2 separate regions of the Homo sapiens genome follow, and region 2 is linked to region 1. The links come from fine-mapping of genetic effects on gene expression. Tissue or cell type: whole blood. Region 1 holds a variant in brackets; the other region holds the start of a gene. All regions are shown on one strand. Distances are between the middles of the regions.

Region 1 (4,240 bases):
TCTGGCTGAAAACATTTGACTCCTCCCATGGCTCAGAAGACGCAGGTGTGTCTCACTGTCGTGGGAGCCTGGTTCCGAACATCAACTCTTTCTGTCCAGTTTCGTCAGAGGGTGGGAGATTAGGTACAATCTGCACTGAACCCCAGAAATCCCCAAGCTCAAAACCATTCTTCTCCATGTCTCTGGCAATTCTCTGCCAGCAATTTATTTCATGTGCTCTGTCTCTTTCTTAAAAATTAAGTAAAGCACCATTTCTTTAAAATGCTGAACAGTTAGACTCTGATAAAAACAGGAACTTCCCTGTATTATTTTATAGCTAAATTTACTAAATATTAGGCCTGACTCTCCTTATATACCCCAAGGGTATTTTCAAAAGTCTTGCCTCAAGAGCTTCCAAACTGCCTTGTGCACGTGCTCACCATACAGGGAACTGACTGCATGGAGAGATGCCCGTGATGGGGCCTCCTGAATGCTTCCTAATCCATCTGTGCAGAAGACTTGACTGTGTTTAATTGCCAAGCCACTACAGGCTAATACTAATAAAATACAACAAAAATAAATTACTAGAAAAATATAATTGTAAGAGATATACAAAAGCAAGCGTAGGTTTTTATTAGAGTTGAAACAAAATTATGTTTCAATAAATACAATCAGAACATAGTATAGAAAAATTATCAAAAATGCACAATTGTTTATTGAAAAGTATACACACCAGTACAGGCATAACTTTTGGTCCTTTTACAATCATAACTAAATAAAAACTTATGAACAAAACAGCAAACTTCCATGTCATGCTTTGAAAGCATATTGCAAACAGCAGTAATGGGTCTTTGATGTGACATATTCCTTCTCTCCTCATTTGTCTAATCCAGGAAGGAGAGCTGGAGAGGCACGTCACCCAGGGAGAAGCTCACCCACCCTGTTTCCCTGTTTCCATGTTTCATCTTTGGAAGCTCAGAGGCCATCCTGACAGAGGAGTGTTGATGACACAGGAGAGGTTGGATAATTTCAGCAGGCTTAAGATTTTATTTTGTCCTGCATGTAGGGCTCACACTGTAATCCTAGCACCCTTTGAGGCCAAGAGAGAATCCCTTGAGCCCAGGAGTTCAAGAGCAGCCTGGGCAACATAGTGAGACTCCCAGCTCTACAAAAAAATTTTTCAATTTGCCTGGCATTGTGGTGTATGCCTATAGTCCCAGTACACAGGAGGTTAAGGTGGGAAGATTACTTGAGCCAGGGAGGTCAAGGCTGCAGTGAGCCCTGATAGTGCCACTGTACTCTAGCCTGGGCAACAGAGCAAGACTCTCAAAAAAAAAAAAAAAAGAAAGAAAGATGTGATGCCTTCAGTCCCTCATCAGCAGTTATACTAACTATGCATTCTGTAAAATTATAATTAATCTTAAATTATTTCTCAAGAAGAGAAATGGATTCTGGTTTTATATATGTTTCTGTTACAGTTGACAAGCTGGTCCTGAAACACCACCAGTGGAGGTGCGGACGGCAGTGGCAGCAGCATCCACTCACCGTGTGAGTCCTGCAGGACCCAGGCGAGGCTCTGCCTGGTCACTGAGGCAGAGCTTGGACCCCGCACTTGGGGGACAGTGGGAGGCTGCTGCCTCTAACGGCTCAGTCGAGGCTTCCGTTCTCTGTCCGTGGCTCTAACCAGGCTCTGAGCAGCCTTGAGTCCTCTTCACTCCTGGAACTCACCTGGAAAGGGTTGGTGGCTCCTTCTCTCCAGCACTTCAGTGGGTTCGGGATGGCATTGGTGGGGGGAATGTCCTGTGTGTGAGATTTCTGCACACACGTGTGAGTGTGTTATGTGTGCACGTGTGTGCATGTGACATGTGCCTCATGTGAAACTGAAGAGAAACACAGTAGATGCTCTATGGCCTCCACTCTGTGGCTCCCTTGGCAGCAGTTTTTACCCACACCCACCGTTTCTTATGCAGCAGATGTGTTTTCACACAAAACTGCCCACAGACACGCACTGTGTGAATCAGACAGAAGCCGAGCCACTTGGTGCACAGGTGTGGAGAGAGGAGAGACCCACGCCTGCTGAGGCAGCCTCTGTCCACCTTCTTAAGTCCCTCACCAAGCAGGGCTTGAACCCCTCTTCCAGTTAGAAGGTGAGGAAAGAAGGGTGGGGAGCGTCCTGCTCTCAGCTATGGCCACCGTCTCCATGCTCAGCCATGCTTGGGAAGAACCCCACACACCAGCTCCCCCAGGCCCGAGGTCCTCCCGGGGGCCCATCCTGAACTTCACCAGGGACAGATTCATTAGCACTTGGGTCTAAATGACAAATAATCAGTGGTTAAAGTCTGTTGACATTTTAGGGGGATCAAAAGTGGTGAAGGAGCTGCCTTCCGGAGGCCTCCAGGCCAGCGGGCCCTCAGCTCTCTC[G/A]GTCTCGCTGGGGCCTGCCTCCTTCTCTGGCATAGAAACAGCAGGAGCTCAAAATATTTGAAAAAGGAAGGAAAAGAGGAATAAATAAAGGAAGGAAGGTAAGAAGTAGAGAAGAGAGGTAAGAAGGAGACTGGAACCTTCTGAAATCCCCCCTTGTTGCTGACATTGAGGGGCCCCTCTCCGAGCCACACACACCTTGCAGGTTTGTATTTGTGCCCAATGGACTAGACCCAGTGGCTGAGCCGGGAGGCTGAGGCTGTCTTCCTTCTGTCACACGTGATAACGTGAAAGTGCTGTGCAAATACAGGATGTAAGAACAAGAGAAATTTAGCATTCTCATTCTGCAGTGATATGACTGATAAGTGATATGACTTGCCTTAAAACACAAACTCGAGCTCAGGGCACCCAAAGCCTCTCACTCATCTATCCGTTCACGTATCCCTGGAGCTTCTCCTGCAGGCCAGTGCGAGGAGGCCGTGACCAAAACACGGCTCCTGTCTTCAGGGAGCCTGTGACTTCCCTGGGGAACGAGGTAAACAGGTCATGAAGACGCATAGTAGCTGCTGAGGGAGCTAAATAAAAGCACGTGGGAGGAGCCTCTAACTGGGGAGTTTTTCCTGGGAGGAGTCTGGTGAGCTGAGCCCTAAAGGACCAGAGGGAGGAACCTCTGACTGGGGAGCTTTTCCTGGGAGGAGTCGGGTGAGCTGAGCCCTAAAGGACCAGAGGAAGTCAGCCACGCTAAGGAGCGGGGAAGGCCTGGGGGAGGCTGTTTCTAAGCAGGGAGCAGAATGCACGAAGCCCCCAAGGCCCATGAACTCTGTGGCAAGCCCGGGTGGGCACGACTGGGCTGGCTGCAGTCTCCCTCAGTTCCACCACCCTGTCTGCAAGGAGCAAAGAAACCCCAAAGTACTTTGTTGTCTTAGTAAACACAACAGGTGACTCAGGGTATTACGTCTCTGATTATGATAATTTGTAAAAGTAATAGAAGCACGTTTGAGAAAATGTTGAAAATCAAAGGGGAAAAATATGTACCTTTAATCTTATCACTGAGCATAGTGAACATAGCAATTTAGATATATTTCCTTGTATCCTCTTCTATATACAAAAAGAGTTAATCGTAGTTTATGTACAATTTCATAATTAGATTTTTCACTAACCTTTATAATCACTGGTGTATTTCATACGCGAGGGCCAGCACCATGGCATGCAAACTGGGGCTCAGCCTCCATCTTCCCACATGCAGCGCCGTGAGGGACCCCTGGGATTTGACGTGGAGGCAGGGGTGCCCTTCAGTCTTGCAAACTCACTGAGCACGTGCCAGGCCTGAGCCAGGCGGTGGCAAGAGAGACAGGTGATGCCACAGAGGCACTGACATTCCAGCATGGTGACAGACAAATCAGGTTTTAAAAAGTGACAGAAACTAAGCAAGATGATTACAACATGCAATTTGTGTTGTAATGAAACTATCACAGGATTTTATCAAATGAGATGATAAAGGTTTTATAAATTTGAAAGCCAAATAGAAAATTAATATGATGATGATTTTTATTAGTGACATAGTTCATTTCTAAGATAATTGATAATATGTTTAGACTAAAATTGTCATAAGAAATATTTAATATTAATGGAAACTTATGTTTATTACAGAAGTGGTAAGAAGGAGCAGGCCGGGTGACCTTTCCTGCTGATTTATTACCTTATAAAAGATTCCAGGAAGTATTTTGAAAACACCATTTTCTGGTCTCTTTAAAGCACATATGCTGGGAAAGTGGCCAAGATGCAAACTCTTAAGCTCTTGGAGGATTTCAAATGTATCCCCTCGCTAGGAGGTAGAAAATGG
Region 2 (4,240 bases), 53 kb after region 1:
TCGAAGGCACCCAGCGCCACGAGCTTTCTTCACAAGCCAAGCAGCCCGCCTAAGGCCCAGGTCTCCCTCTCCTCGTCTCCCACTAGATACACATGGATGAAGCCAGATAGATAACAGGTAGAGGATAGATGACAGGCAGATGACAGATAGGCAGATGATAGATGATCGATAGATGACAGGCAGATGATGGATGACAGGCAGATCACAGATATGATAGATCACAGATAGATGACAAATAGGCAGATGATAGATGACAGGCAGATGACAGATAGGCAGATGATAGATGACTGATAGATGACAGGCAGATCACAGATATGATAGATCACAGATAGATGACAAATAGGCAGATGATAGATGACAGGCAGATGACAGATAGGCAGATGATAGATGACTGATAGATGACAGGCAGATCACAGATATGATAGATCACAGATAGATGACAAATAGGCAGATGATAGATGACTGATAGATGACAGGCAGATCACAGATATGATAGATCACAGATAGATGATAAATAGGCAGATGATAGATGACAGGCAGATGACAGATAGGCAGATGATAGACTGATAGATGACAGGCAGATGACAGATAGGCAGATGATAGATTGATAGATGACAGGCAGATGACAGATAGGCAGATGATAGGTGATTGATAGATGCCAGCCAGATGACAGATAGGCAGATGATAGGTGATTGATAGATGACAGCCAGGTAGATCACAGATATGCCGGATCACAGATGATGGATAGGCAGATGATAGATGACAGATAATAGATGATAGATTACAGATAGACGATCGATAGGAAGATAATAGATGATAGGTACATGACAGATCATAGATAAATGACAGAGAGGTAGATGATAGATGATAAATAGGTAGATGGTAGGTAATAGATAGGTAATAGATCGCAGAGAGATGATAGGTAGATGATAGCTGATTGATACATGATACAGAGATGATAGGTACATGATAGATGGATAGATCATAAATGACAGCAGATGATAGATGATAAATAGGTAGATGACAGGTTATAGATAGGTAAATTACAGATGAAAGATAGGCAAATGATAGATGATAGGTACATAATAGATGGATAGATCATAGATAATAGATGACAGGTAGGTGATAGAGGAAAGGTGGATGATAGATGATAGGCGCATGATGATAGATACCTGACAGATGGATAGATGAAAGGTAGATGATGGACAGGTAGATGATAGATGACAGATAATAGATGACAGATTACAGATAGATGATCGATAGGAAGATGATAGATGATAGGTACATGACAGATCGATAGATGATACGTAGATGATGGATAGGTAGATGATAGATAATGTGGATGATAAACATCAGATGATAGAAAAATCGATATCTGTGAATACGGGGGGTGGGGGATCAGAGAGAAGCAAATGATAAGCCCAATGAGGTAAATGTTAATGACCGAATCCACAAAAAGGATAAAAAGGAGTTATTTGTAATATTCTTATTCTTCTAATTTTTGTGTAAGTTTGAAATTATTTCCAAATAAAAAATTAAAACAACACGAACTTAACTTGTATCTCTCATTCCAGTGCTTTCCACTTGCTGGGGAACGCCGAGCTCTCCTGGGTTGGTCACGCGGGCGCCTTGGGAGGCCGCGCAGTCCCGCGTGGGGCGCGGCGGGGCGGCCCCAGTGGCACCGCGTGAGTCCCCGCCCAGCGTTCCCCACCCGCCGCCGCGTTTGCGGGGAGAGAATGACCCCCGTTTTGCAAACGCAGGACACAAAACCCGCCACCCAGCTGAGGCTGGGACCCACCTATACCCCCGTCTGCGTTTTTCTCCAGCTTTCTGTTCGACCTGATGTCCTCTTTGAGGCTGCGGGGATCCCCACCAAAAAGCACTCTGATTTTCTCCATTTTCAGATGCCCCAACCTAGCCCCACTGGCTACAAAGACGGCGCGCCCACCCCGGACGGGTCTCTGGCCGCTTTCTTGGGCTTCCGCAGTTGTTTAGAAAGGCAGGTACAGGCGGCCGCAAAGGCATCCGCCCCTTCCGAGCGCACACCTGGCCCGGTCCTCCTCTCCCGGCCCCGCGCCGGCCGCTCTCCCCCAGTTCTCTCTACTCGGAGCCGGGCGCGCACTGAGCACCCCGCTTCCCAGCCCCTCCGCCCACAGATCGGGGAGGCGCGGCCGGGAGGGGGGCGTGGGCCAGGGAAGAGGGGAGGAGAACGGAGAGAGAGGCTGGGGGGGTCGAGGAGACCAGAGGGAGCGCGCGCGGCGGGGACAGAGAGCCCAGGGGCGAGGAGAGGGCGCGGGGCGCAGCGGAAGGGGAAGTGGGGGGCGGTGAGGAGGGGCGCGGAGCGGGGGTTCTCGGGGGAGGAGGGAGACGAGGATTGGGGCAGCGCGGGGCGGGGACAGGGGCGGGGGGCGGAGCGGCGGGGCGCGTGGGGGACGGGCGTGCATTGAGCGCGCTCCAGCTGCCGGGACGGAGGGGGCGGCCCCCGCGCTCGGGCGCTCGGCTACAGCTGCGGGGCCCGAGGTCTCCGCGCACTCGCTCCCGGCCCATGCTGGAGGCGGCGGAACCGCGGGGACCTAGGACGGAGGCGGCGGGCGCTGGGCGGCCCCCGGCACGCTGAGCTCGGGATGCGGACGCTGCTGCCTCCCGCGCTGCTGACCTGCTGGCTGCTCGCCCCCGTGAGTGCGCCCGCGACCCCCGCCCCACGGCGCCTCGGACCCGGTTCTCCCCTTCCGAGAAGAGCGCTCCTCCCGCCGGTCTTCGCCTTCCTCCCGGGTGCTGGAGCGCGGGCGGGGTCCGGGAGAGGGAGCGGGGTCGCCCGGGGTCCGGAGCTTCCTCCCGGAGAGCGTGAAGCGCTGAGCTCCGGTCCCGCCGGGTTGCGGGACTCGGGTTGGGAGGCTGCCTGCGCCCTTCCCCGCGCCCCACCGTCCGGGGTTTGCTGGAAACGGGATCGTTTCTTCCTGGACGCGTCAACGATGAGCTCGTTCGGGGCCGTCCCGGGAGCTGGGAGCTGCGGGCGCCTGCGCGGGCTGCGCGTTTCACGGGGAGATCGGGGTTGGCGTTGGCCGCAGATGCCTCTCGGTCCCTCCCTGTACTTACTGGTTAGTTTTAGTGTCGGGGGGACGTGGCGTCGGTTAAATAAAGTTTCCTTTTGGAAATAGTTGCTTTTTCCCAAGGGCACTGGAGGAACTAACTGCTCATAAGTTTGTTGATTAAGTGCCTTCGCACATGGAGTTCTGAATTATTCCCTCTGTGAACCTTAAAAAAAAAGGAAAGAAAAAAGAAAGAAAAAAACCCGAGCCTTGTTTCTTGCTTTCCTCTTGGAGACTGAAGCGGGTTTGCGGTGCGCGCGGTTTTCGTGCGCGTCGCAGCCGAGGCAGGTCTGGATCGATCCGCGGCCCCTCCGCAGCTGGGAGGCTGCGCTGCTGACCCGACAGTGTCATTGATTAACCGGCGACGCCCGGTCTGCAGCGGGGCTCGAGCCACACTCCCTGGCCTTGCGCGGAGGCGCAGCTCGGCTTTCCTCCCTCGAGGGTGGGCGCTTTGCGGAGCGGGTCCTTGGAAAGTAACGGGTTTTATCACGGTTAATGCTGCTTTCATTGCTAAAATGTCCTAAAAGAAGTCATTGCTGTGCATATTCCAGGAACGTCAGGTATTATTAATGTCTTTTACACTTTAACAAAGTTTTTCTTTTTACATCAATATAATTTCCTTAATTCTGAAATTTAAGCCACTTACTTGTCCTGCATGAAAACAGAGGACTTGGAGCCCAAAGTCAGTGCCTGGTGCTGGTTCAGTCACGAGCAAGAAGCAAGCTCGGGGCTCTTTTAAATGGGGCTGAAGGTGGCAGAAGTTCCAGCATTGTTTTCCCCTTAATTCTGTTAGGATATTGTGTTCCTGGTTGGAACTCTCATTGACCATTTCAATAGTAAGATAACTAAACATAGATGGCCATAGTACGCCCAACAGTATGATTCTCTTTAGTTACTACTTTAGTACAAGTAGAATTTTGGTCGGTGGTGGGGGAGGGGGAAGATCAAGACCAAAAGGATGGGTGGGGGGAGCCCTCCTTAAGCCCCCAAGGGCCGCTTGGCAGGCCTGTGCTGACTTCGCGGAGGGCGTGAAGAACAAGGTAGAAACGGTGCCTTCTGAGAGGAAGCATTGTGTAGTTCTGCCTTCTTCTCACATTAGTAGACTGTTAATTACTATCTTTGTGGCACCTTTCGCTCCCCTGATGGATCCT

The links. PIP is the estimated chance that this variant, and not a neighbour inherited with it, causes the effect.
Region 2: it holds the start of VIPR2, and the variant in region 1 is fine-mapped to the expression of VIPR2 in whole blood (INTERVAL, PIP 0.97).

Annotation. Positions count from the first base shown.
Region 1 is chr7:159,196,203-159,200,442 of GRCh38, reverse strand. No RefSeq gene overlaps it. Among named protein-coding and RNA genes, the nearest start is that of VIPR2, 53 kb to the right of the region's middle. RefSeq lists a silencer at 2,989-3,058 and an enhancer at 3,169-3,278. The variant G/A (reference allele first, on the strand shown) is at 2,401.
Region 2 is chr7:159,143,156-159,147,395 of GRCh38, reverse strand. VIPR2 (vasoactive intestinal peptide receptor 2) reads left to right here and starts at 2,529. Exons shown (of 13, transcript NM_003382.5): 1 at 2,529-2,675. The coding sequence starts at 2,625. RefSeq lists an enhancer at 1-731.